Regions from separate parts of the Homo sapiens genome. Here region 2 is linked to region 1. Evidence: fine-mapped QTL for protein levels in blood plasma. A gene starts in region 1. The other region holds a variant in brackets. All regions are shown on one strand. Distances are between the middles of the regions.

Region 1 (2,911 bases):
TTTTGTATTTTTAGTAGAGACGGGGTTTTGGTATGTTGGCCAGGCTGGACTCAAACTCCTGACTTCAGGTGATCCACCCACCTCGGCCTCCCAAAGTGCTGGAATTACAGGCATGAGCCACTGTGCCCAGCCCCGGCTATACTTTAAACTTATGTTTAGCAATTAACATGTCAGTATTTTAACTTACAAATGACTCAGACATTTAATGAATATCTATTACTTAATTTAATATGTTCGAAATTTCAAGTCACCAAAAAAGATTTTTAAAACTATTTTTAAGTAGACAAATTTTATAAAACAAATTATTTTTAAAAGTTTATAAACTTTTATTCCATTTACATTTACCTAATCTACTTGCTCTTAACAATTATGCTTGAATTGCTCATGAAAAATTTCATGAGATATTAAACAAAGCTAGCCATTGAAGGAGTTCAGGAGTTTTTCCCAAAATCATTTCCTCTCCCCTAAATTGTCCCTCCCCAATGAAGAGGATACACAAGCTCCTAAAATCTCAGTTTTTGTTGGGGGAGGCAGAGGGAATATTAGTTTTTCTTTTCTGTGATACCCCCTACACGAAATCTGTGTACTTTTTCTCTTGTTAATCTACCTGCAGTCAATTTATTTCATAGACTTAGTTATCCAAGCCTCAGAGAGTAGAGGGGAAGTCTTTCTTCCTCTATACCATCATCTTATGTTAATTTTTGTTGACAAATCAGGCAAGTGTCAAACATATCACAGTCTAATGGCCTCTGAGTTGGATTTTTTTTTTTTTTTTTTTTTTTTTGAGATGGAGTCTCGCTCTGTTGCCCAGGCTGGAGTGCAGTGACACGATCTCGGCTCACTGCAAGCTCCGCCTCCCGGGTTCACGCCATTCTCCTGACTCAGCCTCCCGAGTAGCTGGGACTACAGGCGCCCGCCACCACGCCTGGCTAATTTTTTGTATATTTAGTAGAGACGCGGTTTCACCATGTTAGCCAGGATGGTCTCGATCTCCTGACCTGGTGATCCGCCCGCCTCGGCCTCCCAAAGTGCTGGGATTACAGGCGTGAGCCACCGCGCCCGGCCAGAATTTTTTTTAAACAACATGGAAACAAATAAGACCTCGTTCTGTTTTCTAGGAGCTAAAAATCCAACGAAAGAAGACACAGACACAATATTCCCCTTGTTACAAAGAGAACTGTGTCAACTTTTATAACTGACACAAAGATCTGTGCTATAAGGGCGGGGAAGGTTTTTTCCTACTTTCCACAGCACTGTGGATTGTTCCACAGTTTAATTTGATCTTAATTTTTATGTGGAAATACACATGAATGTAATGAGTTCTTAAATGCTAAATTTAGGAAGCAAGGTTCGTTAGGGGAGAGAAAAAAACACCTACATGGTTATCTCTAAACTTTACATATCGAGAACCTTGGAATTTAATTTTATTGTTGTTCTGTAACATATTTTCATGTTTAAAATCAGAAAAGGCAGCATTTCTCGAGTTTCCTGCTTTCGAGGAAGGGAGGCATAAAATGTTTAAAAAGACGCCGCTCACACACCTCTTAAGAATCAGAGCACAGTGAGGAAGAGGAGCGAGGAAGCACTAGGATCGCAGCGCTACTCCCAGACCACGTCAGTGCCCAGAGGGCGCCCTCGCCTGTAGGCGGGAACCGCGAGTCCGCAGCAAGTCCCCAGCCCCGAGCTCGCGCAGGTGGGCGAGGCGGGGACGTGGTGGGCGGGGCCTAGAAAGGCGGGGCCTCTGGGGGCGGCCCCGGGGCGGGCCACGCTGGTGTGAGGGCTGCAGGCGCAGCTCCGGAGCGCCTAGAGCGCGGCGCGGGGCGGGAGCTTGGTGGAGCAGGAGCGGCTGGGCATCCTCCTGAGACTCCGGGGTCAGACGCCCACTCCAGGTAACCGGCTCTCCCTCGTGTTCCCCTGCTCGGCCGCCCGGCGGTGGGGGAAGGCTGAGAAGGATGGGTGGGAGGGAGCCGGCTCTCAGCCAGTGCCCCGTGGCCCCGGGCGGGCTGGGCTCCCCCGCGGAGGAGGAAGCAGAACCGGGGTGCGCCCGGGACCGGAATGGAGCGGCGCCTCTTCCTTCCACCTTCATTTTCCGTCCGCTCAGTGGGGCTGGGACGCCGGTGCCCCGTGTCCCCTGAAAGTCACTTTCTGGCCTCTTGCCCCTGGTCCGTGTAGCTTAGATGTCGGAGGGGTTGGCTGCGGGCGTGGATAGGCAGGGAACGAACAGACTCGCTGCCATCCCATGGGTGCCAGGGGCTTAACTTCATTTAACTTCATTGAATCCTAACGCCAGCCCGGCTAAGATGCATTTTCACCCCTACTTTACTGATAAAGAGGCCAACGCTAGGATAATAAATGACTCACCCTGGAGCAAACTATTACTAATAAGAAAAGAGACGTTAGTTTAGGGGCTCCGAAGCCTCTCCTTTCCTGCTCCCTCGCTTTCCTTCTTCTCGCGGCAGTCTAGGAAACTCGCGCGCAGGGTCTATTACGAAAACAAGTGATTCGTCTTAAAAGCATTTTACCCCCTCCTAGGTTTCTCTTTCCTCTTTTTTTTAAGTATCTCAGGCAGATTCCTCCAAGTTTTGGTTATTAGGTTTTTGAAATGGAAGAAGCCCTTGCTCACTGCTTCTTTTCTCCTGGCAGCGCTTTCTGCGCAGCACAGGCACCCTCGCCTGTCACGCCTCCCTCTCCTCTTCCCGTCTCCCAGCGTGGATGAGGGCGCCTGCAGATCCCGGCTAGGGCACGGACCGCCTAGGCCGAGGTAGGTTCTGTAGGCACCTGGCATGCTGTAGATGCATATAAACGTTGCCCTGTACACCCTTTGCCTTGTTATTTCTTTCTGCAGAAAAGAGAGTCGGTTTTTTACACATAATGGGGCAAGAGGCCAATTGGGAAGATATATGGTGTTCAA
Region 2 (2,911 bases), 44 kb after region 1:
AGAAATCTTGTTATGAACAGATTTATAACGGTCAAATTGGTAGTACTTGACTTTCTTTTTTTAGAACAGCAGCGCTTATCAGCTGTAGAACCAATTGCCAAGTTATAAAATTGATTTTTGAAAACAAAGCTATTTAATGTTTGTAAGCATTTCATATAGTAAAAGTGGGTTGTGTTCCTGGAATTTGAATATAGATGAAGGTCTGTCATAAATTACAATTTGTATACACTATTGTTTTCTGCAAGACTTAGTTATTACAGTCTGTTATAACTAATGCAGAAAACGCAAGCTGTATCTCTCTTTTGGATTATGAATACTTTGTTTTCTTGTAGTTTCTGGCATGGAACTAAACTCATTGTGGGACTAACCCAACACAGTCCCAAACGGGGCTTTGTTTCATCTGAGCCTTTTCAATCCAATTTGAAAATTCTGTTGACTTGCCCTTCCTTCAAAGATTCTTAGAAGTCACAACCATTTCCAAACTTCTCCCTAAGTATGCCCCAAATCCTAAATCAGCAAAAAGCAGAATGGATCTGATCTCTTTTAGGGCTGCTGACACCAGCTAATGGACATTAAAACATGTCAGGAGGAACTTAAATTACTAACGATTTCAAGAACAAGGGGTGGTAATTCTGGCACAGTGTCAGAAACTCATCAACTATAGACTGTTCAATCATTATTGCCTAGGCGTCCAACTATGGTTTTGCACCTCAACATACCAAAGAGGTAAAATGCTTGTTGTTAGATATTCTAGTGCATCCATGTACTGGGATTTGGGGTTTGTTTTTTCTTTTGTTTTCTTTTTCAATCTGTGGTATAAATACTAGAGACTGTGGGCTTCCTGTACTACTACAATTTATCCTCTGATTCAGCCACTTTGTTTTTGTTTTAAACCTAACCTCATAGCAAAGAGGACAGTTTTTTGAGCCTGAGAAGATTTATTGTGAAAAACTCTCTCTCTCTCTCTCTCTCTGTATATATATATATATATATATATATTTATTTATATTTATAATTGCTTCTTTTATTTCAGTGCTGCTCTTCATTTCAAGATGCCGTTGCAGCTCTGATAAATGCAAACTGACAACCTTCAAGGCCACGACGGAGGGAAAATCATTGGTGCTTGGAGCATAGAAGACTGCCCTTCACAAAGGAAATCCCTGATTATTGTTTGAAATGCTGAGGACGTTGCTGCGAAGGAGACTTTTTTCTTATCCCACCAAATACTACTTTATGGTTCTTGTTTTATCCCTAATCACCTTCTCCGTTTTAAGGATTCATCAAAAGCCTGAATTTGTAAGTGTCAGACACTTGGAGCTTGCTGGGGAGAATCCTAGTAGTGATATTAATTGCACCAAAGTTTTACAGGGTGATGTAAATGAAATCCAAAAGGTAAAGCTTGAGATCCTAACAGTGAAATTTAAAAAGCGCCCTCGGTGGACACCTGACGACTATATAAACATGACCAGTGACTGTTCTTCTTTCATCAAGAGACGCAAATATATTGTAGAACCCCTTAGTAAAGAAGAGGCGGAGTTTCCAATAGCATATTCTATAGTGGTTCATCACAAGATTGAAATGCTTGACAGGCTGCTGAGGGCCATCTATATGCCTCAGAATTTCTATTGCATTCATGTGGACACAAAAT[C/G]CGAGGATTCCTATTTAGCTGCAGTGATGGGCATCGCTTCCTGTTTTAGTAATGTCTTTGTGGCCAGCCGATTGGAGAGTGTGGTTTATGCATCGTGGAGCCGGGTTCAGGCTGACCTCAACTGCATGAAGGATCTCTATGCAATGAGTGCAAACTGGAAGTACTTGATAAATCTTTGTGGTATGGATTTTCCCATTAAAACCAACCTAGAAATTGTCAGGAAGCTCAAGTTGTTAATGGGAGAAAACAACCTGGAAACGGAGAGGATGCCATCCCATAAAGAAGAAAGGTGGAAGAAGCGGTATGAGGTCGTTAATGGAAAGCTGACAAACACAGGGACTGTCAAAATGCTTCCTCCACTCGAAACACCTCTCTTTTCTGGCAGTGCCTACTTCGTGGTCAGTAGGGAGTATGTGGGGTATGTACTACAGAATGAAAAAATCCAAAAGTTGATGGAGTGGGCACAAGACACATACAGCCCTGATGAGTATCTCTGGGCCACCATCCAAAGGATTCCTGAAGTCCCGGGCTCACTCCCTGCCAGCCATAAGTATGATCTGTCTGACATGCAAGCAGTTGCCAGGTTTGTCAAGTGGCAGTACTTTGAGGGTGATGTTTCCAAGGGTGCTCCCTACCCGCCCTGCGATGGAGTCCATGTGCGCTCAGTGTGCATTTTCGGAGCTGGTGACTTGAACTGGATGCTGCGCAAACACCACTTGTTTGCCAATAAGTTTGACGTGGATGTTGACCTCTTTGCCATCCAGTGTTTGGATGAGCATTTGAGACACAAAGCTTTGGAGACATTAAAACACTGACCATTACGGGCAATTTTATGAACAAGAAGAAGGATACACAAAACGTACCCTTATCTGTTTCCCCTTCCTTGTCAGCATCGGGAAGATGGTATGAAGTCCTCTTTGGGGCAGGGACTCTAGTAGATCTTCTTGTCAGAGAAGCTGCATGGTTTCTGCAGAGCACAGTTAGCTAGAAAGGTGATAGCATTAAATGTTCATCTAGAGTTAATAGTGGGAGGAGTAAAGGTAGCCTTGAGGCCAGAGCAGGTAGCAAGGCATTGTGGAAAGAGGGGACCAGGGTGGCTGGGGAAGAGGCCGATGCATAAAGTCAGCCTGTTCAAAGTGCTCAGGGACTTAGCAAAATGAGAAGATGTGACCTGTGCCAAAACTATTTTGAGAATTTTAAATGTGACCATTTTTCTGGTATGAATAAACTTACAGCAACAAATAATCAAAGATACAATTAATC

Direction of the effects. Positions count from the first base shown, and alleles are read on the strand shown. Strength reflects both the effect of a copy and how common the allele is.
For the plasma level of the protein whose gene starts at base 1,766 in region 1, C is the high allele of the variant in region 2 and G is the other (strong association).

What was found. PIP is the posterior inclusion probability: the model's chance that the variant is causal. The UK Biobank Pharma Proteomics Project read protein levels with antibody pairs (Olink). The fine-mapping took linkage between variants from a reference panel, not from the people measured, so its PIPs are less certain.
Region 2: its variant is fine-mapped to the plasma level of the GCNT1 protein (UK Biobank, PIP above 0.99). The variant lies in the coding sequence of GCNT1. If it changes the protein, the assay may bind it differently, which can mimic a change of level.

What each region holds. Positions count from the first base shown.
Region 1 is chr9:76,457,417-76,460,327 of GRCh38, forward strand. GCNT1 (glucosaminyl (N-acetyl) transferase 1) reads left to right here and starts at 1,766. Exons shown (of 4, transcript NM_001490.5): 1 at 1,766-1,889; 2 at 2,644-2,761. RefSeq lists a silencer at 1,551-2,090 and an enhancer at 2,701-2,810.
Region 2 is chr9:76,501,206-76,504,116 of GRCh38, forward strand. GCNT1 (glucosaminyl (N-acetyl) transferase 1) reads left to right here. Exons shown (of 4, transcript NM_001490.5): 4 at 1,034-2,911. The coding sequence starts at 1,177. The coding sequence ends at 2,463. Among named protein-coding and RNA genes, the nearest start is that of GCNT1, 43 kb to the left of the region's middle. The variant C/G (reference allele first, on the strand shown) is at 1,649.